2 separate regions of the Homo sapiens genome follow, and region 1 is linked to region 2. The links come from fine-mapping of genetic effects on gene expression. A gene starts in region 2. The other region holds a variant in brackets. All regions are shown on one strand. Distances are from middle to middle. Region 1 overlaps SELENOT (selenoprotein T). Region 2 holds the start of SELENOT (selenoprotein T).

Region 1 (15,577 bases), 28 kb after region 2:
GGTGGCATATTTCCTTTTTTTTTTTTTTTTTTTTTTGCTGGGGCAGCATCTATCTGAAAGTGAGTTGCTTAGAGACTTTAGAGACTTTAATCTCCAGAGTAATTATAAGGATTTTCTGTCCATATTATTGAAAATTATGTTCCCAATCTTCGTTTTCCTTGGCAAAGTAGAATCAAATTTTAGAGTTAGAAGGGTTCTAAGTCTAAGTTCCTTTTCTTGTGCTTGGGCAAACAAGTTTGCCTGGTTAAGGGCAGAATGGGAATAAGAACCAGAGTTTCATTCTCTCATGCCTTGATTTTTTTTGTTTGTTTGTTTTTTGTTTTTGAAGTCTTGTGTCCCAAATTTGAAAGTCTGTAGTTCAGATGAATAAGAATTGTTTTCATTTCACTGTTTATACAAGTAATTGATACTCCCCCAAAAAGGCCAAATCTGTGTGAGAGCTCAAAGTATGCTGAATGTGAATAGGTATTTGCTGTTGTCCAACAGTAACCCAAATCTATAAAGTTTAATGTTCTTTTTTTTTTTTAAACAAAAAAATCAGGCCGCATTACTGGCATATATAAAGTTTAATGTCTTAATGGAAGGATTTGAGGGGGTGGTAACTGAAATATGTGAAATGTATTTAAAAAACTCAATGTATTTGTCATCCTGGTTCAATTATTATGAATTTGTGACTGATTTTGAGAAAAATTTGTAATCTTGATAATTTTTAGGCTTTAACTAACTACAAAATAAATCTAGATGTATGCTAAATGACTTAATGGAAACACTTATTTTTCTGCAGTGTTTCCTGAGGTTATAGGCGGGTGTTTGAGGAGTACATGCGGGTTATTAGCCAGCGGTACCCAGACATCCGCATTGAAGGAGAGAATTACCTCCCTCAACCAATATATAGGTAAGAAATTTTAATAACTTAAAAGGAAAACAATGTATTTGACTTTATAAGTGTTTGTGAATTGGTTTAATTAGCTGTCCTTAGTTATTGTAATTACTTAGTTGGTTATAATAATATACAGAGAATGCTGTTTTATATATAACAAGTTTATTTGACCCAATATAGAAGGCTTTTTCTGTAAGAAGGAAGAGGGTCGTTTCAGAGATGGCAACCCTTCTAAAGATGTGTTTTCATATGTATTTTTAATTGTGGAAATAGAATAACAATCCTAAATTTTTATAGAAAGTGGTATTAAATTCTGTATTTCATAAAATAATAGTATTTTTAAAGACCAATTCTGTATAAATTTGTAGGTTAATTTTTCAGGTGATTTTAAATATATTAAACATTTTTGTTTTAACACTGCACAATAAACTTTAATTGCTTTTTCTATAAGTAACTTTTAGATTTGGTGTCTAGAAAATCTTTACATACACTTGAATTACTAAATTTTAAAGTAGATTGGAAATTGTGGCTTCTGATGATTTTCTTTCTTTTCTTTTGATAGACACATAGCATCTTTCCTGTCAGTCTTCAAACTAGTATTAATAGGCTTAATAATTGTTGGCAAGGATCCTTTTGCTTTCTTTGGCATGCAAGCTCCTAGCATCTGGCAGTGGGGCCAAGAAAATAAGGTATGTAACTTAATAGCTTTGGTAACTGTAGGTTTTTATGTTGTCAGTGAAATATTCTAATAGATTTTCTTATTTTGAATACTTGTTATTGATTCACCTGTTAACATGTATTATTTTAATTTATACCAGTTTTATCTCTGGGGAAGTCACTTAGCCTCCCTTCACCTTCATTTCCATATTGATATATTAAGAATGATTAGGTCTTAATCTTTTTATTTTGGGGGGATAGGGAGGTGTTAATTTAGTATAACCTGGGCACAAAATAATTTGTTATCTGATTTTGATTATATTACTTAGGTCAAATCATATCCAGCAAAACATAATATATACATAATGCAGGCCTTTTAAACCAATTAATGTCATATTAGTGGGTTGATTCACATTAAAAAGGGGATTCCCATTAACTTGTTCTTATCAAAACTCCTCTCTCTTTTTAAATTATTTGTCCTTTGCCTCTTCTGTTTATGGATCTGTTTGACTAATTGCCTGAAAGAAACAATGTAAATATACTTAAGAACTTTGTGCTGTTTCTCTTTTCCTTTTGTAGGGTCTTATTGCCACATACATTCTTTCTAGATTACTCTGATTTTAATTTATTTTACTTTTAAGTAAAATATTTTAATATTAAAAATGATTTTAATCATTGTTTCTGGAGGGCTTACTGTCCTGTCTAAAATGGGTCTAATTTTTATTTTTCTCATGGATTAGATTTTTCTAGGCTTCCTTTTATGAAGTCTTCCTTTTTGGAGTCTTCTATCTGATCTTGTCCTTTAATTCTAGGCTGAATACCTTTAGCAGACTCCTGCATAGCTGTGCTTCTTTTTCTTTGGGAACCATTTCTTTCCAGTAACAGGCAGGACTTCTTAATATAAATATCTTCAAGTGGTATCTCTAATTGAAATATATCTCTACCCTGTAGGTTTTATGACATTTCCTTGTATATTGTTCCCATGAAAATAGACTTAACATTCCCAAATGGTAGAGTAATTCCTATAAAAACAAACCCCACCTAGCTCCTGTGGGGCAGTAGGGAAAGCTCTTTCTCATCTGCTGTGAACATTTGATTTATTTTTCTGAAACAGCTTGCTGTGAATTGGCATTCTCACTGCATCCTACTTTTAGTCCTGTGATTTTGTTAAAGTAAAATTTTCTGTCCAACAAGAAACACTTAGCCGCTTTTGGGAGAGAGTATAGATTTGCCTTTGAAAGGTGAATGAATGTACTTTAATATGCCTATGCTTTCTAACCTACTTCTTTCTTAGTTTGACTTAAAATGATTTGTTTGAAACATATACAGGTTGTATTGAATATTATATGGAGTTACTAATTTTGCATCACAAGTCTCTTATGAATTCATATATTATAAAAATGGTAAAGTGAACTCTTATGCTTGTATTCTTTTGTTTAACTTATTAAGGCTATTATGAAATCTCTCAAATTCTGTGTACATTATGAATATCATCTATAAGTGCTTCAGCATGTATGGAGCTGCAAATTAATATTGGTTTACTTTTGCTCTATGTATGTTATCTGAACATATGGAATAGCAGTAATAGTTTTTATGGGAACTTTTAAAGTAGATTAAAAAGAGCATTTACCAAACATGACTTTGCCTGTTGTGCTTAATTATATTTTCTTTTAGGTTTATGCATGTATGATGGTTTTCTTCTTGAGCAACATGATTGAGAACCAGTGTATGTCAACAGGTGCATTTGAGATAACTTTAAATGGTAGGTTCTGAATAGTTTGCATTTTGTGATTGATTTTAAATGATTTATAATGAGTATCAAGCTTTTATCTTTTATAATAAGATAAACTTCTTTAGTGTTTGTATAAAAGTAAGTTTATTTGAAAGAAATTGAAAATTCAGGAGATAGAAGAATTTAGAAAATTTTAACTTTTTTTTTTTTAATTTGCTCCCTCAACTTAATCTCTTTATCTCTGCTTGAACTTCACACCTTCGAATTCCTTGAGGAGTTGGCCCTATTCTTTTATCAGATTGTCTCTGTGAACTTTATCTACTCCCATGGCTTTAAAATAACATCTGTATGATGATCCCTGAATGTATATCTCTCGATCTCTCTCCTAAAATGCTATGCTGAAGAATCTTAAACATAACCTACTCTAAAATAAACTCTTGCTTACTTCTCCTTCCTATAATGTCTGTAAACTCTTTTGCTCCTCCTTTGACATTTCTCATTTATTTAGTGATACCATCATTTGTCTACTCAGTTGCCCATGCCAGAAACCTATGATAATATCACCGTCTTCCCTAGTCCCCCTATTTTATGGATTACCAAGTCTTCTCAGTTCCACCTCCTAAATTTCAAAAATCTACCTTCTGTTCATCTTAACTGCCACCACCCTAGTCCAGGACACAATTAACTTGTTACCCTCTTCTGCATTCTCTAAACCAAGGGTTGGCAAATACGGCCTATGAGCTAATAATGTTTTTTACACTTTTTGGTTAAAAAAAAAACTAATGTTTTATGACACATGGAAACTATATGAAATTCCAACTTCTGTGCTTATAACTAAAGTTTTGCTTTGCATCAGTGAAAAATTTGTAGAAATTTATCTTTATATTATATAAGTACCTACATAATGTTCTTGATTTTTATCTCTTGGTCCATAAAGTGTAAAATATTTACCATCTGCCTTCTTACAGAAAAATTGACCAATATCTGTTCTAAACAATAACTTTTTTTTTTTTTTTTTGAGACGGAGTCTCGCTGTGTCGCCCAGGCTGGAGTGCCGTGGCGCGATCTCGATTCACTGCAAGCTCTGCCTCCCAGGTTCACGCCATTCTCCTGCCTCAGCCTCCTGCGTAGCTGGGACTACAGGCGCCTGCCACCACGCCTGGCTAATTTTTTGTATTTTTAGTAGAGACAGAGTTTCACCCTGTTAGCCAGGATGGTCTTGATCTCCTGACCCTGTGATCCGCCCGCCTCCACCTCCGCCTCCCAAAGTGCTGGAATTACAGGCGTGAGCCACCTCGCCCAGCCTAAACAATAACTTTTTTAATGCAAATTTTATCTTGCTGCTTGAGTGTTCCCAATTCATTAAATGACTTGACTTTGTTCTCAAGATAAAGACCAGAACATTTAATCTGGCCAAAAGGCTCTGCATGATCTATTTCAGTGGTTAGCAAGCTGTGGTCCTATGGACCATATCCTCTGCTGCTTGTTTTGTAAGTAAAGCTTTATTAGAACACAACCATGTCCATTTGCTTGTGTATTGTTACAGCTGCATTTAGGCTACAAGAGTTGAATAGCTGTGGCAGAGACTATGTATCTTCCCTAGCCCAAAATGTTTACTTTCTGTCCCTTTACAGTTTATTGACCCCAGTCTAATCCTTTCCACCTTCCCATCCTCCCTTATATCACTCCTCTTCTATATTTCCCTCAGCTATGCTGATTTTCTCTTATTTTCAGTGCCAAGCTACTTTCTGGTCTTTACATTTCTGTTCTCTCCCTCAAAGGTTTTCTACTCTCATGAATCCCCACTCTGTCTTGGTAATTTTTCTTTATCTTTTAGATCTCAATTTAAATGATACTATTTCTCTGACTAGACAGGGAGAGCCTTGTGTATATGTCCCTCCTAGTACAGTAGTGCCTTTTAGTTTTAGTTCTAAGTACACAATTGTAATTTTGTAGCCATTTGTGTAGTTCTTTTGACATTTCCCCTACTGGAATGTAAAGTCCCTGAGAGCAAGCAGTGTACTTTTTTGCCTACTTTTGTATCCCAGTTGTGTACATAGATGATAAATATTAGTGGGATGAATGCATATTATAAAATCATCTTTAATTTTTTGGGGGGCGGTGCCATTTATTTTTATAGATGTACCTGTGTGGTCTAAGCTGGAATCTGGTCACCTTCCATCCATGCAACAACTTGTTCAAATTCTTGACAATGAAATGAAGCTCAATGTGCATATGGATTCAATCCCACACCATCGATCATAGCACCACCTATCAGCACTGAAAACTCTTTTGTAAGTTGTTTAAAATATAGCTAATGTATAGGTTTCTGTTGATTCTTATGACTCAGCAAGTTAGTAAATATTACATATATTATCACTTGAGTTTCCAATTTAAGATTAAACAGAGGGATGTATTCTTCATTAAAATGTTGAAGTGTATGAAGAGAGTTCGGCCCTGCCAAAATAAAGTCAGGTTGTTAGTAATTTTATCTTCAAGGCTTAATGATTGGGTCTGTAACCTTATTTTCTTTACTCTAAATTCCTAATGGCCAGAGTTGATATATTATGCTAGAGGTGTGTATACTTCCTGTCCTTACCTTCAAGTAATTAGTTCCTGGGAGTATGCAAATTCTTTGAACATACTCAAGATAAAAAATTTATAGGCAAATGTGTGAACACAGAGAGGTATTAGTTAACTTTTTCTTTGTGATCAATGAATTCACTTTCTAAAGAGTTTTTATGAGTGATTTTTGCAATAAAATATTCTTTTTTCTGTATATCTTTCAGGCATTAAGGGATCATTGCAAGAGCAGCGTGACTGACATTATGAAGGCCTGTACTGAAGACAGCAAGCTGTTAGTACAGACCAGATGCTTTCTTGGCAGGCTCGTTGTACCTCTTGGAAAACCTCAATGCAAGATAGTGTTTCAGTGCTGGCATATTTTGGAATTCTGCACATTCATGGAGTGCAATAATACTGTATAGCTTTCCCCACCTCCCACAAAATCACCCAGTTAATGTGTGTGTGTGTTTTTTTTTTAAGGTAAACATTACTACTTGTAACTTTTTTTCTTAGTCATATTTGAAAAAGTAGAAAATTGAGTTACAATTTGATTTTTTTTCCAAAGATGTCTGTTAAATCTGTTGTGCTTTTATATGAATATTTGTTTTTTATAGTTTAAAATTGATCCTTTGGGAATCCAGTTGAAGTTCCCAAATACTTTATAAGAGTTTATCAGACATCTCTAATTTGGCCATGTCCAGTTTATACAGTTTACAAAATATAGCAGATGCAAGATTATGGGGGAAATCCTATATTCAGAGTACTCTATAAATTTTTGTGTATGTGTGTATGTGCGTGTGATTACCAGAGAACTACTAAAAAAACCAACTGCTTTTTAAATCCTATTGTGTAGTTAAAGTGTCATGCCTTGACCAATCTAATGAATTGATTAATTAACTGGGCCTTTATACTTAACTAAATAAAAAACTAAGCAGATATGAGTTAAATTTAAAAGTTTCAATTTATTGCTCAGTGTACCTGTTAACATTATATTTAACAATTGCTTAAATTTTTGTTTTTGATTTATGGATAATTTCTTAAGAGTACACACTTTAGATACACAAATAATCGTTCATTTACCATCTTTAGGATCATTGAAACTCATCTCACTAAAGAAAGTTCACTTGAACCTCTTTATAGCATTGATACTAGGTGAACAGAAATTACCTGACTAATAATTTGTCTAACATCATATATCAGAATTTTATTGTATATGATGAACAAAACTTAAAATTTTTTAAATTTAATTTTTAAATACTGTTTCAGAGTTCTAAAAAGGCAGTTTTTTAAAAAACTTAAGTTGATAAAAACTGTAAGAATAATTTAGCAGAAATAGAACCAGAATGTAGAAGAGTAGTCATGTAACAGCAGTAATAACATACTTCAGCTTCCATATAGGAATAGAAGTGGTAGAGCCAAAAGTGATTTAGGAAAAGTTATAAGGTACAGGTTGAGTATCCCTTTTCCAAAAATGCTTGGGACAAGAAGTATTTCAGATTTCATAATTTTTTTCAAAGTTTGGAATATTTGCATTATACTTACCAGTTGGGCATCCCAAATCTGAAATCTGAAATGTTCCATGAGCATTTCCTTTGAGTGTCATGTTGGCACTCAAAAAGGTTCAACATTGAGTCCACTTAACACTTAGGTGTTAGAAGACCTAACTTTCTGTAACAATTAACCTTATACTTTGTTTGTCATCGAATATTTGTTGAATGCATGTCAGGTAATGGTCTTGATTGTGATAGCTTCAAGGTGGAACATACTGTAATCTCCAGATGCTAGGAAGTTAGTCTAATAATTCACTGCAGAAAATTGATTAAGTGGCTGTCCTTTTAATTAAGAGTGTGGAGTCATAAACTTAAGTTCTTCATATAGTGACAAGAGTCCTTAGAGATTGTTATTCAAGTTCCTTAGAAATTGTTATTTAGGTATAATATCATCTTGTCTTTGACTAGAGCTTGAAACCTTGTTATCTGATTGTGTACCACTCCAAATTCCCTGCCTTCTGCAAGTTGAATGTCTTGCTGAATGTGTCTAGGGGTTCATCTTCAGTAATCGACATTCCACTAGTGCCATAGTTAACTTCATGACATGTAGACATTCAAAACTTGAGCCTTGGATGTTCCTGTGGACCTGACAGTTAAAAATATAAAGAACCTAGGATTCAATTCCAACTTTCTCTGTTTGCCTTGGGTTGAATAACTTATCTTTTGGAGAATAGCTTTAAGTGGCTTAGACACTGATAAAATTCAGCTGTGTTGTTGACGCTCATCTCTTTTGTCTTACGCTTAGCCATATTTAAATCTTGAATTTAATAGAGTCTAGTGAAAAAAATGAGTGGGAAGAATGAATATAAAAGTAATAATATAAGGAAAAAGGGAAAGTAAACTATTTAGAATGTAGTTTTGTTATATTCCCAGCATTTCAATATTTATTAGTTACTTGTAAATTACTGTGGCTGTGTAGTTTATAAATGTCTGTGCACTATATTAATTAGAAGACCATAGAACATGCCAGCAGGTTGGCTAATGCTATGGGGGTTTTTACCACAGTTGCCATTGTGGAAGAAATTATTTGGTACATTAATAAAAAAAGTTGGTAAAACATG[G/A]TTTTATACCTCAGTGTATAAGATGTGCAAGACAAATATGCTTATTTCCTTTTCTAGAATATAAGTGATATTATTTGCTTATGACACTAACACTATTAATGACAGGAGTCAATCAGCCTTTACAGCTATCAAAATATAATGAGATCCCAATGATGATTCTTTTTTACTTTGAATGTTAATTAGTTTGGGACTTTGATTGGCTGGCAAACATTTTATCATTGTCAGAATTTAATTTAGATTTCAAAAATAGCTTACAGGATTTTAAACATGGTGTGGTATTCTAAAGCCTTTTTTTTAAAAAAAGAGATCTTTTTGAGAGAAACAAATGAGGATTGTAAAGTTTGGGGACTTACCTCTGTAGCATTGTGAAAATAAACTTTGATTAAGCTGATTTGAAAGGAACTCCTACTTTGTGGAATTAAATCTACATTAGAGCACTTTATATGGTAACTATACTCACAAAATTTTGCATTATAAAAGTTATTATCATTACTTTTTAATGGCTTCTTAACCCGACCAGTGTTTATGACTCACTATCAGTCTGGCACTCAAGTCTTACCATACTCTTGGACCTTATGCTACTTCTCAAGCCTTACGGTCTACTTGTGCTTCAGTGCTGCTGAACTGTCAATAGCTCTGTGATGTATTCTGTGCTGGAGTGGAGCAAAGTGGAACAGTTTACATCACTGTCTGTCTTTACCCCCAACCTGCAGAATTCCTGAAACATTCACACTAACATCCTTAAATCTGGAGAGAAACAAAATGAATGTTTTTCCTCTATTGACTGGTATAGACAATTTAACAATCTCAGAAGAAAGAGCAAATATCAGATTTTTTTTTTTTAATTCAGCTGGCTCCTTTTCCCCTAGGCTTCAGAAAAGCAAATAGAAACAAATAGATCCACAGCCCAGGTGCAGTGGCTCATGGCTGGGAGACCAAGATGGGTGGATTGCTTGAGCCGAGGAATTCAAGACCAGCCTAGGCAACAAGGTGAAACTCCATCTCTACAAAAAAAAAATTAGCCAGGCATGGTAGCATGCACCTGTAGGCCCAGCTACTTGGGATGCTGAGACAGCAGGATCGCTTGAGCCCAGGAGGTTGAGGCTGCAGTGAGTCAAGATTGCACCACTGCAGGTGACAGGGCAAGACCCTGCCTCAAAAAAAAAAAAAAAAAAAAAAAACCCAGCTCCAAACTGTATCTTGAAGAAAAATATAAACTGGTTTCAGATACAGTAGAAAGCTGTAAAGTCATCCATTCTATAAGACTAACAGAATGTTTTCTTTTGCCAATGTTAAGCATGAGCAAAATAAAAAAGCATGCAGACAAACAGTAGTGGTTTTAAAATTTTAATGTGCTTAAAAATCACTGGGACAAATTTCTGGATCCCACTCCTAATGGTTCTGATTTAGTTGATCTGAAATGGTACCAGGTAATTTGCATTTCAAACAAGCTTCAAAATAATTCTAATACTGTTAGTCTGTGGTGTATACCAGGAGTCCCCAGTCCTTGGGCCATGGACTGGTGGTGGTCTGTGGCCTCTTAGAAAACCAGCCGCACACCAGCAGGTGAGTGTCAGGCAAGCAAGCATTACCTCCTGAGCTTTGCCTCCTGTCAGACCAGTGCATTAGATTCTCATAGGAGCCAGAATCCTATTGTGAACAGTGCCTGCGAGGGATCTAGGTTGTGCGCTCCTTATGAGAATCCTAATACCTGATGATCTGAGGTGGAACCTAATACCTGATGATCTGAGTTTCATCCCAAAACCATCCCCCCAACCCCCTGTCCGTTTATGGAAAATTTGTCTTCCACAAAAGCAGTCCCTGGTGCCAGAAAAGGTTGGGGACCGCTGGTCTACACTGAGTAGCACCATACCACAGAGCAGAATGCAGAAGATTCATCCTAGATGCATCCTAGATGCGTCACGTGTAGAATGACTTAACACAAATTCAGCAAAATGGGAGCTCAGGAGATAAAAAGAATGATATGAGAGGGAGATTATGTTTCTAAGAAAACACTGACTTAATTGTCCCAGTCTTATCAATGCAACACATCCTTTCTTGTTATCACTTTACAACCTTTTGCATGAATTTCTTTTAGAAGGAAGTATTAAATCTTTGAGTATAATATAAAATAACTGGTTTGAATTGCCAGATTTTCTCAGAGCAAACCAGGCAATAGCATACCTACATTATCCTTAATTTACAGTGACAACTGATTTTGATTTTCACATTAAGCAAAAATCTATGTAAATTCTTGTAATTCTGAGTAGAGAAAAATTTACATATTTAGCTTTATTAGAGTAATTAACCATAATAGAACTGTTTAAATTGCCAGGGAAACCCAATCTACTATTTTATCCCCACCAACCCCCCCAGAAGGATTAATTAGTTCATGTAACTGAGAAAGTCCAATGTAGAATTGGCTTCAGGGATTCAAATGAGAGAATCAGAACTCTCCTCTAAATCGGCCTCATTTTCTCCTTGAGAGAAATTATAATTAGGGAAGAGAGTTGGGGTAGGGGGTGAGAAGGGGGGATGATGAGGAGGGGAAAGGAAGAAGGAGAGCATGGATTAAAGTCCCAGAAAAGTACTCTGGTCCAACTTGTGTGTCACATTTCCTATCTTGGAACTTTCTCACTTGATATCTACTCCCTGATCATTTTGTCATCTGTTAATCCCTTTTTCCTTTATTGACCCCTTCCACCCAACCTCCTCCTCATTCAGGGTTATAATTGTTTAAGACAAGCCTATTGCTTTGTGGTTATAGGCTGCTCAGATCAAGTACTGCTCAGATCAGGTAGCTATTTAACCTGTTTGAGAGTTGTCTAGAATGGATGGAGCCAGCACTTGATTGCTTGGTTAAGAAACAAAAATATTAAGGCCTCGGGAGGTTGCTACCAACACTCCCTTGGGCCACTGGCCATACTCATCTGTTTTGTGTACTAACAACTCTTACAAGAGGAAAAAAACCATTACAGCTCCTTTGTTACTCTGGAGTTGCTAAGAGCAGATCTGTTTGAAAGAAAGTGTGCCATTGACATTTTTCCCTAAACGTTTTAAAAAATAGTATTAGAAAATGCTGCTGAATTTTGTCTTTTAACAGCTCATAAAATCTAGGAATAAAATTATTTTTTAATATATTAAAATACATAGTGTATATAAGCAACAGGTGACTCATAAATGTGATTCTTCCAGTAAAATTGTGTTTTATACAGATGTATAGAAATTTGGTGTTGAGATCTACTTCAGTACTTGAATTTTCAAATTAAAAAAAAGGCCAAGAGAGGTTAAATGTCTTGCCCTGGTTATATAGCTTATGGCAACGAAACAAAACCAAACAAACCCTACACCCTTGGCGGGGCTTGGGGAAAGCAGAATAACAGCAGAGGACTTTGTCAGAAATTAGGTGGGAAGAGAGAAGACAGTAACAAGGCAATTTTACAAATTTAATCTCAATTTCACTTCACATTTACGCTTTAGCTAAGATGGGCTGAAATTTTTCAAATAAACTAAAAAAGGCAGGTGTATGTGTGTGCAAGATACATCAGAGGAAGGCAAGTTTACATAATAATTTCTTATCCTAATATAATGAAATTCAGGTTTCAGATTGACTGGATCTATTTCCCCACTTGGAAAGATCCTTCCCCGAAAGCAGGTTTATAAATTGCAGTTCTTCAGACGACTCATCCTATTCACTGATTACATGATGAGAATTGAAAACACACAGAGATTACTAGCTATGTGTCCCAGGCAAGATGGCTACCTCACGTGTAAGGTAAGTTTAAAAACAGCACACCTGGCCGGGCTCAGTGGCTCACGTCTGTAATCCCAGCACTTTGGGAGGCTGAGGTGGGTGGATCACCTGAGGTCAGGAGTTCGAGACCAGCCTGGCCAACAAGGTGAAACCCCATCTCTACTAAAAATACAAAAATTAGCCAGGCGTGGGAGCGCATGCCTTGTAGTCCCAGCTGAGGCTGAGGCAGGAGAATCGCTTGAACCAGGAGGCAGAGGTTGCAGTGAGCCAAGATCGTGCCACTGCACTCCAGCCTGGGCGACAGAGCAAGACTCCATCTCAAAAAAAAAAAAAAAAAAAACAGCACACCTGCTTCTCAGGTGCAGTTTGGATCACATGTTCTCTCAACGCTCTTGCCATTTTAATTTGGTGAAATGCTGTGTTCAACTAGATCTCAACTTTGCTGAAGCACTGGCCTGCCTGGGACCATGGCCTAATGTGGCCCATTGCAAAACACAATTTTGTTGATGTCTCATTTTAAAATTCATGCCAAAAATCATTTTATTTCAAATTGTTCATTGCTGGGTTTAATATAAAAATGTTGTTTTATTGTTCTTAACTCCCTAAATCTTTAAGCAAAATGGATGCTCGGGAAATTTGTTTCTCCTGAGGCTGCGTGTAACCCCGGCATCTTATTCCCCATGGGTTTGGAGGAATGCGTGGAGGAATGTGTGTGTGTATGTGTGGACAGCATCTTAAGAAATAAGGTGATCATTATAGAGTCATCTTCTTCAAATTTGTATAAGTTTTCTAGATAATGTGTAGTACAGCCTTCTGCTTAAGGATTATTGCAGTAACATAAGCCAGGCACAGTGGCTCACGCCTGTAATCCCAGCACTTTGGGAGGCCGAGGCAGGCGGATCATGAGGTCAGGAGATCGAGACCATCCTGGCTAACACGGTGAAACCCCGTCTCTACCAAAAATACAAAAAATTAGCCGGACGTGGTGGCAGGCGCCTGTAGTCCCAGCTACTCAGGAGGCTGAGGCAGGAGAATGGCATGAACCCAGGAGGCAGAGCTTGCAGTGAGCCGAGATCGTGCCATTGCACTCCAGCCTGGGCGACAGGGCAAGACTCCGTCTCAAAAAAAAAAAAAAAAGGATTATTGCAGTAACAGAAGAAGATGTGTTTCCGGAGCTTTGTATCCAGAAAATGCATGTGGGAAGATTATATGGAAAATGAAGATAATGAGTTTTAAAATAATACACAAAGTTACGGTACCAGAAAAGCAGTTAAATACCGTACAAAGTAATGAGAAACATGCTGAAAACAGTCTTGAGGAAGGCTAAAATTGTGGTTCCATACGTTGACTGACTGAATGAATATGGTTAAGGCAGTTGTTCTCAACCGGGGTTTTACTCTCCAGGCTCATGCAGAGTGGCCTCTTTGGGTCCTGTAATGGTCCTGTTCTTAACCACCACCGCTAGCTGGGGCCTGGGGTGGAAGAGTCTTATCCTAATCGGTCCCCAGACGGGGAGAGGGCAGTGCTTGTTTCCTAGCCACTCTGAAAGGCTGAAAGCTGTTAAGGAGGCTTAGTGTCATTTCAAGCAGTCTTCCTTGCCTCTGTGAGTAGTTTTTCCATATTTATGCTTAAAACAAACAGAGGAAGCTTTTCATTCCAATAATGAAATAAAAGGCTAAATTCAAGGTAACAAACGTTTTAGTGGGAAAGATTGTCAAGGATAACAAACCAACAAAGGGAAATATCTCTTATTAGCTCTTTTCTTCTTTTGATTAGAGAAAAAAGCCAAAGAACTACTTTTGGGGCTTTAAGTGGCTAGTGGACTACCCCAGAGGACACAAAGAAAGAGGGTTCTCAGTGTTTCTAGGGCACTTCCTGTTTTCTTTGAACTTGTGTGAGAATGTGAACTGTGGTGAGAGGCAGCTTTGAAATGTGACCAAAAAAAAAAAAAAAAAGACTGGTTTTAGTGTAGTTTATTTATTTTCTTTCAAAGCATTTGTGTTAATGAGTTGGATGGTAAGAGGTGATTAACATTCCAGATCAGTAGATTTCAGAAATGTCTTCCAACAGTGAAAATAACTTGTGTTAATCCTCCGAGCTTTCACCTTCACTTAGGCTGACTGAGGGGTGGGAAACAGCTTTGGAATCTTTACTGAGGACCAAGCAAATTTACAGTTTGAAAGTCAATCCTATTTAATTTTCCAACTTCTCCAGAATATTGTTTCCATTTAGCTTCTTGAGAGCATTTCTGGAGGGATTGCTATGTGCTAGGTACCGTGGGGGGTAACAGTTGTGAAGATGTGTGGCACAATTCCTGCATTCAAAGTGCATATGGTATAGCAGAGGAGAGAATCATAAAAATCTTACAGCAAAACGATAAGAAGCCTCATGAGGCCTATAGGAGCAGAAGGGAGCATTGGTTCTAGATGCTTGAGTATATAATTTTCCATAAATGGGGACAGTGCACAGGAGGAGCAGCACTTCAGGGATGAGAAAGCAGAAGCACAGGGTTTCTGTGATAATTCCTATAGGGAAGGGGGCTGGACCGTAGTATATATTGGTGCGGGTGGAGGGAGATGTGCTGGGAAACAGCCTGCGGGCATTGACAGCTGAGGTGAGGAATTGGACTACTTTCTATAGATGATAGCCAAGGAGAGTTTCTGAGTTGATGAGCCATCAGATCAGATCTGGCTTTTAGGGGTGAATCTGTCTGCACTGAGGCTATGGTGGGCGGAGAGGAGGATGAAGAGGTAGAGGTTCTAACAAAAGCATTGTGGGCACTTTCAGCATCGCACTCCAGACATCTTTGGCCTTGGATTAATAATTTATAAGTAATATATTCAATTTAAAAATTAATGTCAACTTTTGTGGTTACATTCCCCTTCTATCCTCTGAGTTTTCTTTTGTCATGCTGAAACCTATACTCCATTAGAATTATCCTTCTTAAATCTAGTCTCATCTTCCCAATTTAGCTTTTAAACTTTGGGTAACATTTACATTTTTTTGTCGTCTATTTTCTGCTCATTGGCTAAGGAGCCTTTTTCCTGCCCTGAGAATATAAGATTCATTGCAATTAAAGAGCCTAGTGGTTTAATGTGATTATTCTTTCTTGTTTTTCTGAGAAGTATCCTTGTGTTTTGTGGACCAGTCAATCCTGACTTTGATCTCTAGGGACAATACACTGTGAGTATTTATTTCAGGAAGGACACTGATCCTAGATATTCACTTAGAGGATGAATTTTCCTTATACCAAGGAAAATTGTAAGGTAGAATTTTTTTTTTTTTTTTTTTTTGAGACGGAGTTTCACTCTTGTTGCCCAGGCTGAAGTACAATGGCGCGATCTCGGCTCACTGCAACCTCCGGCTCCCAGGTTCAAG
Region 2 (15,577 bases):
CTCTCTCTCTCCTACAAAACACAAAAAAAATAGCTAGGCATGGTGGTGCGGATCTGTAATCCCAGCTATTTGGGAGGCTGAGGCAGGAAAATCACTTCAACCTAGGAAGCAGAGGTTGCAGTGAGCTGAGATCGTGCCACTGCACTCCGCCCTGGGCAACGGGCAAGACTGTCTCAAAAAATAACTTTGTGTTGTTGTTGTTGTTGTCTGTAGACACAGGGTCTCATCATGTTGCCCAGGCTGCTCTTAAACTCCTTGGCTCAAGTGATCCTCCCTTCTCTGGCTCCCAAAGTGCTGGGATTACAGGTGTGAGCCACCATGCCTAGCTTATAGTTTATTGATTGAAATAATACATTTAGATCACAAAGTTCAAGCAGACATTTGGATTTTAAACACTGGCAGTGAAAAACTTTTTCATGGAATTTCAAATGGACAGTTTGGTAATACTAACAGTGGTAGAGAAGCGATCAGCCTTGGACATAGAAGTAGGACCGGCTTCATAATTTGCAGCGCCCAATGCAAAATGAAAATGTGAAGTTCTTTATTCAAAATTATTAAGAATTTCAAAGCTGTGACAACAGAGCATTAAACCAACTACAGGGTCCTGTGTGACTGCATAGGTCACATACCCATAAAGCCAACCCTGCATAGAAGCTACTGAAACTCCACCTCCCTCTGACCTATAAGAAGTTCTTTAGTTTGTTTCTGGACATCCCCCTGTTCCCTAGAAGAGGAAGAGGTAGTGGCCAATCACACCAAGACTGCTGGCTCTGGATTGGTAGCTGCTAAGAACTGAGGAGATTTTCGTTTTCTACTTCTCTATTTTTTCTTTGTAAATTTTTATTTATTATTTTTTAAAATTCGTGGGTTTTGTTGTTGTTGTTGTTGTTGTTTTTGAGACAGGGTCTTGCGCTGTCACCCAGGCTGGAGTGCAGTGGTGTGATCATGGCTCACTGCAGCTTCGAACTCCCTGACTCAAATGATCCTCCTGCCTCAACCTCCTCAGTAGCTAGGATTACAGGTGTGCACCACCATGACTGAATACTTTTTGTATTTTTTGTAGAGACAGGGTTTCATCATGTTGCCCAAGCTGGTCTTGAACTCCTAGACTCAAGTGATCCTCCCCTCCTCGGTATCCCAAAGCGCTGGGATTACAGGCATGAGCTACCGCTCCTGGCCTATTTGGTACTTTTTTTAAAGATGGGGTCTTGCTCTGTCACCCAGGCTTGAGTGCAGTGGTACAGTCATGGCTCACTGTGGCCTCAACCACCTGGGCTCAAGCAATCCTCCCACCTCAGCCTCCCGAGTAGCTGGGACCACAGGTGCGTGCCGCCATGCTCAGCTATCTTTTTTTCTTATTACCAAAATAACATATGTTTAACAGGAAATATAGCCAAGCAAAACATTTTGATCCATATCTTCCTATTTATGTACTTTAAAAAATACATAAATAATAATGTGATAACACTTTACTGTTTCGTAATCCAATTTTAACATTCTATGTTGAGCACTTTATTTTTCATTGAATTCTAAAACATATATTTACTTTTTGAATAAGTATTACAAGACAACAGCACACAACTTTAAAATACAAAAGTTACTTATGCAATAAGAATAACTTCTCTCCCATCTTTGTTCCCTAGTCACTCTGTTCCCTGTTCTCCTCTCAGGAATCAACCACTTTTTGGTTCCTTGTATATTATTCTTTTTTTCTGAAACAGAGTCTCACTCTATCATCCAGGCTGGAGTGCAGTGGTGCAATCTCAGCTCACTGCAACCTCTGCCTCCCAGGTTCAAGGGATTCTCCTGCCTCAGCCTCCCGAGTAGCTGGGACTACAGGTGCCTGCCACCACGCCCAGCTAATTTTTTGTATTTTCAGTAGAGACAGGGTTTCACCATATTGGCCAGGCTGGTATTCTGCATGTAACTTATACACATATAAAAATTTATAAGTCATTTTTAATGGTTGTTAAAATGCCACTAAATTAATATACCATGATTTATTTAATGCAGTGTTGGACACTGAAATTGTTTCTGATTTATAAATTTATAAAATAACATTGTGATGAATATTTTTGTAATTAAAATCTTGAGCTATACATTATTATTTCTCTAGGTTAGATTTAGAAGTGGAATTGCTGGGTCAAGGTTCATGTACATTTTAAGGCTTTGGGTTTATGTTGACAGATTGTAGTTCCAAAAAACTGGACTTACTTATTTTCCCAAGTTAGTATAATGGAGTGCCCATTTTCCTACAAAATCACAAAAACTGAGTATAGTTTTTTTTTCCTGTCCCACAATTATTACAACTTGATTTTGTTGTAATCAATATATTTTGTTTTCCTGATCAGCTTCTTCCAAGGCCCTAGGCTCACCAGGTCCTCCTCTATCCTGTACTCCCTGAACTCCTCCCATGCCTTCTGTTTCGGCGGTCCCATGACCCAAGTTCAGTGATTAGGTAGAAAGACTCACAAGATGGAATAGCAAGTAATATTCGTGGTAAGGCTTATTACAGCAAAGGTTACAGAGCAAAAGCAGTGGGAAAAAGATATGCATCAAGGGAGTTCAGAGAGGCCAGGCACAGGCTTCCTAAGCATTTCCCATTGGGTACTACATAGGAGTTCCCTCGCTCTCACTTTCTCTCTCTGGCAGTGAATTTGGGATATGTCTCTGCCCAGGGAAGCCCCTTTGAGTTTTAGGATCTGAGACTTTTATGGAGGGGCTGGTGACTTAAGCATATCCTACTATCCCTCCAGCACAGTAACCAAAACTTAAAACTCCAAAAATAAAACCAGGTATATACATCATTAGTCTTTTTTATTTTGATTTTTAGTAAGTCGAAAATAATATCATACATCATTAGTTTTTATGCTTGTGCAAAGCAACCTGATGATAGTTATGATTCTGTTTGTTCTTACATTTGAGCCCTGTGTTTTTTAGATAACTAGACTTCAAAAGTCCTTGTTTCAGAATTTTATCATAGGCCTCTTACTCTAGCCCTTTCCTCATACAGAGGTCTGGCCCTTGCTTTTTAAGCTTGCTGGCCTAAACAACTTGCTGGCTATGGTTCTTGCCTCTGTGTAATGGCCTCCCAGACATGGACAGTCTACTATCTGAACTTGCAAGTATTGCCTTGTCTATAATTCTCTTTAGGAGTTGGAGGTGGGAATGGCAACAGTTAGAAAACCTAAGCAAGGCTGGGCACAGTGGCTCATGCCTATAATTTCAGCACTTTGGGAGGCTGAGGTGGGTGGATCACTTGAGATCAGGAGTTCAAGACCACCCTGGGCAACATGGTGAAACCCAGTCTCTACTAAAAATACAAAAATTAGCTGGTCATGGTGGCACATGCCTGTGGTCCCAGGTACTCGGGAGGCTGAGGCAGGAGAATTGCTTGATCCCAGGAGGCAGAAGTTGCAGTGAGCTGAGATCATGCCACTGTACTCCAGCCTGGGCAACAGAGTGATACTCTGTCTCCAAAAAAAACAAAAAAACAAAAAAACAAAACAAAAAAAAAAAACTAAGCAAGACTCAAAGAAGGAAAGATAAAGATAATACAGGGCTCTAAGTTAGGGTTCTTGGTTTGCAAACAAAATGTGTGGTAACTCATAGAGTCAAAGGAAAAGATGAAGAATGAGGCCCTGGAGAAGACAATACCCAGAGTAGTTTGGGGTCTAGAACTTTCCTTAGGGTTCTTCTATTAGAATTAATCAGCTTCAATACCTTTTGGCTTTGGACACAGGCACACCTCTGGTGGGAATGTTTTGAATACCTTTGGCTTTGGACACAGGCACACCTCTGGTGGGAATGTTTTGAGTACCTCAAGTAGTAGTCCCAAGACTGTGTGCAATGGGGTCTTTCTGGTCCCCTGAAGAGAAACTGAGGTACCATTACCAGAAGAAGGAATAGATGCTGAGAAAAACATGTATCCACTTTTTTATTATTATTATTATTTTATTTTTATTATAAGGAAGCCACCACAAGATAATTGAGCTTGCTAATCAATTTTTGTATGGGGTATTTTATTTCTTACTTTTGATATTGAAATGGATACACTCGGCCTCCCAAAGTGCTGGGTTTACAGGCCTGAGCCACCGCTCCCAGCCACTTTCACTATTTTCTGACTTGTTGAATTCCTTCCCGAGATGGTATCAAGGGCCTGGACACCAGCCAGGGTCAGGGTCCCACCAGCGTTTGGAGATCTTCCCTAGCTCACCAGTATCAATACTACCATGCCATCTTAGTGCCAGAGTTTTGCTTTTTGTTTATAATTATGTTGGTACCAATTTACCATCTGTTATTTGCAAGGGTTATGTTAAATGGCAATAATCTTTCTATGTCTGTTCTTTTACCCATATCTAATTTTTAAAATAAATTATGAAGATAAAACACCTTTTTTATAGTCTTGCTGGAAGAATTTAAACTTAAAAGTGTCCAGTCCTCTAGCTGTAACTACTAATTTACAGAGAACACACAGGACACAGATATATATTAAAGTACACCCTGGCAGGGCACAGTGGCTCATGCCTGTATTCCTAGAACTTTGGGAGGCCAAGGTGGGAGGATCACTTGAGACCAAAAATTTGAGAACAGCCTGAGCAACATAGTGAGACTCCATCTCTATTTAAAAAAAAAAAGGCAGGCCATGGTGGTCCCAGCTACTTGGGTGGCTAAGGTGGGAGAATCGCTTGAGCCCAGGTGGTAGAGGTTGCAGTGAGCCAAGATGGTGCCACTGCACTCTAGCCTGGGCAACAGGGCAAGACCCTGTCTCAAAAAAAAAAAAAAAAAAAAAAAGGGCAGTGTATGGGTTTGTAATCAGCAGCAAAACCCATAAACACATGGTTTCTTCGGCAAGTAAGTCACAAGGGAAAAAGAGACAAAGAGGCAGGGCAGGTTGGGAGATACATAAATAAAATAAATTGCAAAAGAAAAAAAGATATTTAATTTTGTTTAAGCACAGACCAAAAAAAGGTCACTGAGCTACCCACAAAACACCAAACATTCCTTTCCTTGGCCACGAAGAGGGACTGCTGCTGCTTTAACAATTAGACCTGAGGAAAGGAAAATAGCTGAGTAGCCTGAGCTATATCAGGTATGCAAATTTTTTTTTTTTCTTTTTTTTTTAGAGACAGAGTCTCACTCTGTCACCCAGGCTGGAGTGCAGTGGCACAATCTCGGCTCACTGCAAGCTCCGCCTCCCGGGTTCACACCATTCTCCTGCCTCAGCCTCCTGGGACTATAGGCGCCCGCCACCACACCCAGCTAATTTTTTGTATTTTTAGTAGAGATGGGGTTTCAGCATGTTAGCCTGGATGGTCTCGATTTCCTGACCTTGTGATGCGTGCGCCTCGGCCTCCCAAGTACTGGGATTACAGGCCTGAGCCACTGTGCCTGGCAATGTATGTAAAATTTATCAGGTCCAGGGAAACAGGAGTATGGAACTTCAGTCGCACCAACCCCATTGTTTAAAGACATTTTATGGCTAGCTGTATCACCCATTATCTTATTTTTTTTGAGACGAGGTCTCACTCTGTCACTCAGGCTGGAGTGCAGTGGCACCATCAGGGCTCACTGCAGACTCGACCTTCCTGGCTCAGGTGATCCTCCCACCGCAGTCTCCTGAGTAACTGGGGCGATAGGTGTGTGCCACCATGCCTAGCTAATTTTAAAATTTTTTGTAGAGGCAGGGTTTCATCATGTTGCCCAGGCTGGTCTCCTAGGCAGAGTGAGACTATGTCTCAAAAAAAAAAATCTAATTTTACTGGAAAGGGGTTCTGATCCAGACCCCAAGAGTCAATTTTTGGATCTCACTCAAGAAAGGACTGGGGGCAAGTCCATGGAGTAAAGTGAAAGCAAGTTTATTAAGAAAGTAAAGGAATAAAAGAATGGCTACTGCATATACAGAGCAGCCCTGAGGGCTGCTGGTTGGCTATTTTTATGGTTATTTCTTGATTATATGCCAAACAAGGGGTGAATTATTCATGAGTTTTCTGGGGAAAAGGGCAAGAATTCCCCAGAATAAAGAGTTCCTCTTTCTTTTCAACCATATAGGGTAGTTTCCAGGTGTTGCCATGGCATTTGTAAACTTTCACTGCACTGGTGGGGGTGTCCTTTAGCATGCTAGTGTGTTAAATTAGCATACAATAAGCAGTAAAGGAGATAGCATGTGAATATATTATAATTAGCAAGAAGTCACTTTTGTCTCTATCTTGGTTTTGGCTTCTTTACCGTATCCTGTTTTATCAGCTGGGTCTTTGTGACTTGAATCTTGTGCTGACCTCCTATCTCATCCTGTGACTAAGAATGCCTAACCTCCTGGGAATGCAGCCCAGCAGGTCTCCAACTCATTTTACTCAGTCCCTACTCAAGATGAAGTCACTCTGGTTTGAACATCTCTGATAATAGAACCGCTCAGCACCCCAGCTCCATTTTCCAAATCATCCAATCAAGCCCCAGATCCTAACACCTCCTAATTGAGTCTTCTCATGGTTTCCCATGGTGTGCGTTCCCCCGTCTTAGTCCATCTTGGGCTGCTATAACAGAATAACTGAGATTGGGTAATTAATAAAGACAGAGATTTATTTCTTATAGTTCTGGAAGCTGAAAATTCCAAGATCAAGGGCTCCACATCTTATGGGGGCTTTGTGTTGTTATCCAATGGAGGAAGGTAAATGTGCAGGAGAGTGCAAGAGTGAAAGAGCAACAGATAGAAATCGAAGCCTTAAGCCCTTTCATAATTGGCATTAATCCATTCATGAGGGTGGAGCCCTCCCATTAGGCCCCATCTCCCAACACTGTTACATTGGGCATTAAGTTTCCAACATATGCTTTTTGGGGGACATATTCAAACCATAGCATCCCTCTTGCTGCAATTAATGATAAACAAAATTTTTCAATTACTGGTGTGTTCCTGGTCTTAAAAGTCTTTGACTTGTCCTAAAAGACACATCAACCAATGACAATGTATAAATTTCATTTTGATTCTGATTTTAACAAATGAACAGTAGGAAAATAAGTAGTTATTGAGACCACAGGATATTTGAACACTGACTAATATTACGCAATTACTATTTTTTAAAGGTGAGACAATGATACTGTGTGTCAGGCCTCTGAGCAAGGCCGTACTTCCAAAGGAAGTGGAGTCTCACTGCAACAGCCATCACAAGGCATCAGATCTCACTGCTCAAGGCAACGCTTATGCTGATAAGGTAGCTAAAAAGCAGCTAGCATTCTAACTTCTATCCTTCATGGCAGTTTTTCTCCTTCTCATCTGGTCACTCCCACCTACTCCCCCACTGAAACTTCCGCCTATCAATCTCTTCCCACACAAGGCAAATGGTTCTTGGACCAAGGAAAATATCTCCTTCCAGCCTCACAGGCCCATTCTATTCTGTCGTCATTTCATAACCACTTCCATGTAGGTTACAAGCTGCTAACCCGTCTCTTAGAACCTCTCATTTCCTTTCCATCGTGGAAATCTATCCTCAAGGAAATCACTTCTCAATGTTCCATCTGCTATTCTACTACCCTGCAGGGATTGTTCAGGCCCCCTCCCTTCCCTACACATCAAGCTCGGGGATTTGCCCCGCCGAGGACTGGCAAATTGACTTTACTCACATGCTTCAAGTCAGGAAACTAAAATACCTCTTGGTTTGGGTAGACATTTCACTGGGTGGGTAGAGGCCTTTCCCACAGGGTCTAAGAAGGCCACCGCGGTCATTTCTTCCCTTCTGTCAGACATAATTCCTCAGTTTGGCCTTCCCACCTCCTCTCTTTCCTTGAAAATCACTGAAGCCTCGACTTACTCACTGCTGAAAAAGGAGGACTTTGTATATTTTTAAATGAAGAGTGTTGTTTTTACCTAAATCAATCTGGCCTGGTATATGACAACATAAAAAAACTTAAGGATAGAGATAGAGCCCAAAAACTCTCCAACCAAGCAGACAACAACGTTGAACCCCCTTGGACACTCTCTAATTGGATGTCCTGGGTACTCCCAATTCTTAGTCCTTTAATACCTATTTTTCTCCTTCTTTTATTCGGACCTTGTGTCTTTCATTTAGTTTCTCAATTCATACAAAACTGCATCCAGGCCATCTCCAATAATTCTATACGACAAATGCTCCTTCTAACAACCCCACAATATCACCCCTTACCCCCAAATCTTTCTTCAGTTGAATCTCTCCCACTGTGGGTTCCCACGCCGCCCCTAATCTCGCTCGAAGCAGCCCTGAGAAACATCGCCTATTATCTCTCCATACCACCCCCAAAAATTTTCGCTGCCCCAACACTTTACCACTATTTTGTTTTATTTTTCTTATTAATATAAGAAGACAGGAATGTCAGGCCTCTGAGCCTAAGCTAAGCCATCATATCCCCAGTGACCTGCACATATACATCCAGATGGCCTGAAGCAACTGAAGATCCACAGAAGTGAAAATAGCCTTAACTGATAACATTCCACCATTGTGATTTGTTTCTGCCCCACCCTAACTGATCAATGTACTTTGTTGATCAGTAATCTCCCCCACCCTTAAGAAGGTTCTTTGTAATTCTCCCCACCCTTGAGAATGTACTTTGTGAGATCCAACCCCTGCCCCCAAAATATTGCTCTTAACTCCACCGCCTATCCCAAAACCTATAAGAACCAATGATAATCCCACCACCCTTTGCTGACTCCCTTTTCGGACTCGGCCCGCTTGCACCCAGGTGAAATAAACAGCTGTGTTGCTCACACAAAGCCTGTTTGGTAGTCTCTTCACACGGACATGTGAAACACTGTGGTCAATTTTTTTTCTTTTTAATAATAATTCTTTTTTAGAAATATGTGCTTAAATAATTGTAAGCCAGGCATAGTTGCCTGTGCCTGTATTCCTAACCACTTGGGAAGCTGAGGCAGGACTGCTTGAGCCCAGGGGTGTGAGGCTGCAGTAAGCTATGATCACGCCACTGAACTCCAGCCTGGGTGACAGTGAGACCGTGTTTAAAAATATATATATACAGATGAAATGATATGATGTCTGAGATTTGCTTCCAAATATGCCTAGGAAGGGAAGAAGTGTTTAGAGATATAGACAAATCAAGATTGTCAAAATGTATAGTAACTGTTAAAGCTTGCTAAGGTAGTTATTCTATTTTTGGATATGTTTGGAATTGTCCAAAGGTTTCCTAAAACTTATGTTTAATATTCTTTCAGGAGAAAGCAATATTGTAAGATCAAAGAAAAGGCCATAACAGCGCACCCAAAAAATTTCAGCATTACCATTCTGAGGGTCAGGAGTCTCCTCCCTTCCATCCGCCAACACTTGAATCAGGACTATAAAGTAGGTGTTTCCAAGTCTCAGGCAGGTAAATGGATAAATTGCAAAACTGGATGCAGAACTCACATCTGCCTCATACATAGGCCCTGTGACACCCCACCAGCTCCTTTGCTCCCTTTCTGCCTTTCTCATGCCGTCCCAGAGTCTTGCACACTACCAAGATGGTGGTGAGTCAGGACAGTGAAACAGGTCGGCTCTTCACTCCAGGAGTGTGCGCGGGCGCCGGGCCGCGCAGGCGCATTACTGCTCCCCTCCCCCGACCTTGGCTGATCGCGCCTGCGCAGTGGGGAGCAGCTCGCTCCTGGGCTTTGGGCTGGCTGCAGTCTGTCTGAGGGCGGCCGAAGTGGCTGGCTCATTTAAGATGAGGCTTCTGCTGCTTCTCCTAGTGGCGGCGTCTGCGATGGTCCGGAGCGAGGCCTCGGCCAATCTGGGCGGCGTGCCCAGCAAGAGATTAAAGATGCAGTACGCCACGGGGCCGCTGCTCAAGTTCCAGATTTGGTGAGTATGTGCACTGGGCCCCGGCCACCCCGCCGCGCCTCTGCTCGGCGCCATTGGCTACGCGAGGCCCCGGCTTCGCGGCCTAAATGGCCGCATCTTCGCTGGCCTCGTAGAACTGTGCCGGCGCCCTTCCACAGCCAGCCTTCTCGCGGCCCCTTAGCGCGGTCAGGCCGCCCTCCTTTTCCAGGTATAACTGCTCACTTGTTTTTTGCCTCCTAGAACAGTGGGAATGGGGAAGGAGGGCGCGAGAAGGTTAAACGCTGAAAGGCGAAGACTGGGGGACACCTGTTAGTACGGAGGACTGGTTGGCGGCGTCACGCCATAGCCACCCCGGCTGCCTGCGGAGATGGGGATGAGTAGGCGCCGCGTCGGCGGAGGAGCGCCAACCGTTTGTCAGTTCACTTTTTCTGCCCTCTTTTCCGGGGTAATGCCGGGCGGCTTCGCTGCCTGGCTAGATGAAGGTTAATTCGGGTCATTGGAGAGGATCCGGGAGTGACAGACGCCGTTTTTCTCCTGAACTTGCTGGGGGGACTGTTGAGTTTGCGAATGGGGCGTCTGACAGCTGGAGGGGGTGGAAGGAAGGTCTGGGGATGCTGGTTCTGTTTGCCATTTCCAAAGTGTCAGAAAAGGAGCACGTTGTTCTTCTAAACATTGACAGTTCGCTCGCATTCCCTCCTCACCTGCCTCCCAGGAGTTGCCTGCTCTGGCATCTCTTTCTACCTTTCAGTTGTCTTGTGTATCCAGCAGATCTCGGCAGTTTTCGACAGTGTTCTTTAAATGATTTTGTTTTTAACCTAATCGTTAGAAGCAGGGCAATGATGCATTTTATACGGTAAGTGGGGTTGCGGGTGGGGATTGAAAGGCTCTGAAGATGGGGGAAAAAACACCAAAATTGTAAAATTATAGAAATGAGAATCTTACACCTCCAAAGATGACATTTTCTCAGGATAAACCGACCATCCCAGAATAGCCAGATTAGTAAATCATCAGAGTCCGGATACATTGGAATGTTGGTGTTGGACATCATTCATTTAAAACCTTCTTTTAAGAACTTCATGTATTAGTATATTAAAGTTTTGATTTTCTACTTCTCCAACTAGCTTTTTACTTACTCACTGAAGACCAAGCAAACCTTTAAAATAATTTTTAAAAATCGGCTTAAGGTGATGTTTGAGTTAGAAAATAAGATGGTGAGACTTTATTTTTTTGAGTGAAAACTAAAACATTGCAATTTCTCCTGATTAAAAACAAACAAGGCCGGGCTCGCTGGCTCACGCCTGTAATCCCAGCACTTTGGAGGCCGAGGCTAGCGGATCACCTGAGGTCGGGAGTTCGAGACCAGCCTGACCAACATGGAGAAACCCCCATCTCTACTAAAAATACAAAAATTAGCCTGGCGTGGTGGCGCATGCCTGTAATCCCAACTACTTGGGAGGCTGAGGCAGGAGAATCGCTTGAACCCGGGAAGCGGAGGTTGCGGTGAGCCGAGAACGCGCCATTGCACTCCAGCCTGGGCAACAAGAGCGAAACTCCGTCTCAAAAAAAAAAAAAAAAACCTCCCTGTACAATGTACTATGTTTCTGGAATATATCATCTTTCATGTAATACTGCAAATGGGAGAATGGTTTATCCATTAACTTTTTTCCTTAATTTTTAAATTAGAAGGTGGTAATCATCTTACTAACCTAAAGATTGTTAAGGGTTGTGATACTTACGGATTTAAGTGTTAAAAAATTGCAGTTTTCAAATTATTTAATTTTTCTGTATCCTACTTTTATCTCTTGGTTGTATTTTTGCTTTTCCAAAATACCCCTTTTACGTTTGCTTTTTTTGGAACACTTGTCACAATAATTTACCAGGTGTATCTTCCACCAAGGCTATTCATAGCAAGGTTTTCAAAATGTGTAAACAAACGTAGGGAAGGGCATTCAGTCCTTCAAATTAAACTTAAAAAAAAAGTAGTAAGTACTTCAGTTAAACTTTTGATACTTTGTTTTTCTTTGTTTTTAAGTACAGACCTGTCCCAAAAGTCTAATAATTTTCTTTTACAGTCACTCTGAGCATGTTATATAACAAAAATGCTTCCATTTAAAAAATTATTTTTATTTTTATTTTTCTGACACTATCCACCGGAGATCATTTTTTGTTTAATCTGTAGATGGGAAATAACGTTATTAATAAGACCCACCAAATACAGATCAACTTAGCTTGTTGTTTGTTGCTTTTCCCCCCAGAGATTAATCTGTTTATGGTAAAGTGAATATTGGGTTTCTGGTTTTGCTAGAATCTTGTGGACATTAATTTGCAAGTTTGTTTGAGAAAGGACAGGAAGCTAATACGTTTGAGGATAAACATGAGAATTTTAAAATTCCATTTGAAGTCAGTATTATAAAATGCAGCTTTTCATTAATTACCACTGCTAACAATCAAAAGAGAACTATTTTACCTTCATTTCCACTGACTTTTTCCCCTTATAGTGATCATGAGTATTTTATCAAAAATAACTATACCTCAATATATCACCTGGTAATTGTACCACTTTTGCAATTGTTAGTCAACACAATAGCAACATAGTGCTGAGAGATCAAGCTTGTAGAGTAGCTTACGACAGAGTTTCCTATTCTCGTTTTTTTTTTTCCTTTCTTTCTTCCTTTTTTTTTTTTTTTGCTGAGACAGAGTCCCGCTGTGTCACCCAGTTTGGAGTGCAATGGCATGATCACGGAGCCTTGACTTCCTGAGTTCCGATAATCCTCCCACCACAGCCTCCCAAGTAGCTGGGACTGCAGACGCGCACCACCACGCCTGGCTAATTTTCATATTTTTTGTAGAGACCTGGTCTTGCCTTGTTGCCCAGGCTGTGTGTAATACCTGCTGTATGCCAGGAATTAAGCATGCTAAAGATGTGACCATCTCAAGAAGTCTACCAGACTGGCACAGTATTACTTGTGTATCTGAGTCTGTGGTTTATTATGTTGATTGAGCAATATAATTAGATACTTTTGATTATATTGGCTTCATACTTGGAAAAAAATTTATTCTGCTTATTTGGACGTTTAACACTTAACATAGAAAAAGGAAGTTCTCTAATCAGAGCTTAAAATTCCATTGTTTTTGAGACAGTGTTGCTTTGTTGCCCAAGCTAGAGTGCAGTGGTGTGATCTCAGCTCACTGCAACCTCTGCCTCCTGGGCTCAAGAGATTCTCATGCCTCAGCCTCCTGAGTAGCTGGGACTGCAGGTGTGCACCACCACGCCTGGCTAATTTTTGTATTTTTAGTAGAGACGGGGTTTCACCATGTTGGCCAGGCTGATTTTGAACTCCTGACCTCAAAGTGACCTACCCACCTTGGCGTCCCAAAGTGCTAGGATTACAGGTTTGAGCCACTGCCCCCGGCTGAAATTCCCTTTTTGTGTTTTCCTTTTATTGATTTTTATAAATTTGTATTGATAGTTACTCTTAGGCATGATGTTTGTCATACATACTTTCTCCGTATATGCGATTTAACATGTAATCAGATCTACAGCATTTAATTAGTTGCAGTTTAAAGAGATTATTGGCTACAACCCTTTACAGTTAATATTTACTTGAACATTTGACAACTGAATTGCTGAGAATAGTAGATTAAATGAAATTGAGATTTCAAAACATAAGTAGAATATGGCGGGATTTTCAAAGTTTTGTTAGTTTGAGAATCTACTGCTGTAATTTTAGGACAGCCAACTTCTAAATGTAGTTTTAAGAGGTAAATGAAACAACTGTACCAAAACAGATTTTTATTTAAATTTACAACTATTCAGCCTTGGCTTTCATAGTGTGACAGCAAGAAAATAAAGACCTAAGGTTGATTTGGATGTTGATACTCATCAAGATTAGTAGTAAAATGCTGAATTGGAGAAATTGTGAGTTACAGAGATCATGTTGGTTACTGTAGACTTGATATTTGCATATTCAACAGATATTGGAGCACTTACTCTGTGCAGGCACTTTGCTTCCTGCGGAGAATTCAATTCAGTGCTCTCGTGGACTTCACAGGCAAGAGCAGATGCAGACATTAATCCATGGACTGACCACACAGATAAAATTCAATTGGTGTTAAGTGCTGTGAAGAAAGATTATGTGGTGGTATGAGAGATGCCTAGTCGGGATCAGGGAAGGTTTCCATGAGGAAATGAACTTTGAACTGAGATTCGAAGGATAAGATTTATTTGGCGAGAACTTTCCAGGCAATGGGAATAACATGTTCAGTGTACTTATAGTAGGAAAGACCACAGTTTTACCAGAGAAGCCTAAGCCTACTGACCTCAGAGACCTAAAAGAAGGTGCCGTTAAGAGCTTGAGGGTCTGGCAGGCCATGCTTAACAAAGACCGTTTGGTTTTCTTGTGGAAAAGACATTCCAGGAGACAAAGAATTGATGGGAAACCATTTAGGGCGGCTTTTGGAGTTGTCCAGGCAAGAGATAATGGAACTTGGAAAAGTAAGGAGGTGGTAGAAATAGAAAGAGATGTATTTGAGAGATCTTTATGTGGTAAATTTAACAGCTCTTAATGATGAATTGTATGTTTGTGGGGAAAGAGAGGTGGCATGAAGTGAGAGATGTCAAAGATGATTCCTGAGTTCTGTGGTGATGCTATACCATTCACTGGAATGATAATTAAAATAAACAAGTATTATGAATGTTTTTGGTGGGAGGGAAGGAATCCTGATTTTTGAAGACTAAGGACATAGTAGCCAGGGGAAAACCCCCACAAAGAAATTTTTATCTCCAAAATAGCCATGATAACTGAAACTAAGAAACTTAAATTAACAGTTACTTTATTACATCAAACCTAAAATACATAATGGATTGTAAGATGTACCATGATTTTATATGCCATTTAGAAGAAAAAAATACTGCCATTTAAACGGACACACTAATGATTATAAGATAAATCCTGTGGCTTTTTTTGTTTGTTATTGTTTTTTTAATTTATAGAGATGCTACATGTAGCCACGTTTAGTGGCTTACACCTGTAAATTCCAGCTACTCAGGAGGCTGAGGTGGGAGGATTGCTTGCGGCCAGGAGTTCAAGACCAGCCTGGGCAACATAGCGAGACTTTGTCTCTAATTTTAAAAAAAGGAAAAGTAGAGATGCTAAATATGGAAAAGTATGCTTATTGGTATCAATGAAATAAAGGAGTAGTAAGAAGTTGGTGTAGATAGCAGGTTAGTAGTAGTAGAGTGTTACCATTAAAAAAATAGCTGCAGCATGTAATTGAACTCCTTGCACATAATAGTTGTTTCCACTTAATAATGAATTAAGTACTTAGTTCAAAGCTTTTAGATATAGGTAAACATGACTGAATGATCTTAAAGGTTTTATAACCTTTTACAAAAAATTGAAACATAATTTCCTAACAGTTTGCCATTAAGGCAAGTGCTGGACAATTGAGTTGAATATATTATTTAGAAATACCAAGATAACCCCTAAATTTTGATTAGTACAGTTTCTTTCTCTCGCCTGATTGTTCTGCCTAGGACTTCTAGTATTATGTTGAATAGGAGTGGTGAGAGTAGACATCCTTGTTTTGTTCCAGTTCTTAGGGGGAATGCTTTCAACTTTTGCCCATTCAGTATGATATTGGTTATGGGTTTGTCAGAGATGGCTCTTACTATTTTGAGGTATGTTCCTTTGTTTAAGTTGTTGAGGGTAAAACTTAAGTTTTGAATACACTGCGCCATCAGTAACTTTTCGGCCTGGCCTCCGTGCCTCTACAGGTGG

Evidence for each region.
Region 1: its variant is fine-mapped to the expression of SELENOT in whole blood (TOPMed, PIP above 0.99).

What each region holds. Positions count from the first base shown.
Region 1 is chr3:150,621,601-150,637,177 of GRCh38, forward strand. SELENOT (selenoprotein T) reads left to right here. Exons shown (of 6, transcript NM_016275.5): 2 at 785-895; 3 at 1,443-1,569; 4 at 3,212-3,299; 5 at 5,410-5,563; 6 at 6,059-8,836. The coding sequence ends at 5,534. Among named protein-coding and RNA genes, the nearest start is that of SELENOT, 26 kb to the left of the region's middle. RefSeq lists a silencer at 13,522-13,816. The variant G/A (reference allele first, on the strand shown) is at 8,446.
Region 2 is chr3:150,593,682-150,609,258 of GRCh38, forward strand. It overlaps SELENOT (selenoprotein T), which reads left to right and starts at 9,640. Exons shown (of 6, transcript NM_016275.5): 1 at 9,640-9,818. The coding sequence starts at 9,682. It overlaps LOC124900547 (a long non-coding RNA gene), which reads right to left and starts at 9,502. Exons shown (of 2, transcript XR_007096128.1): 1 at 9,263-9,502. RefSeq lists enhancers at 5,571-5,660, 5,851-6,050, 6,211-6,420, 9,429-9,508, 9,629-9,778 and 2 more.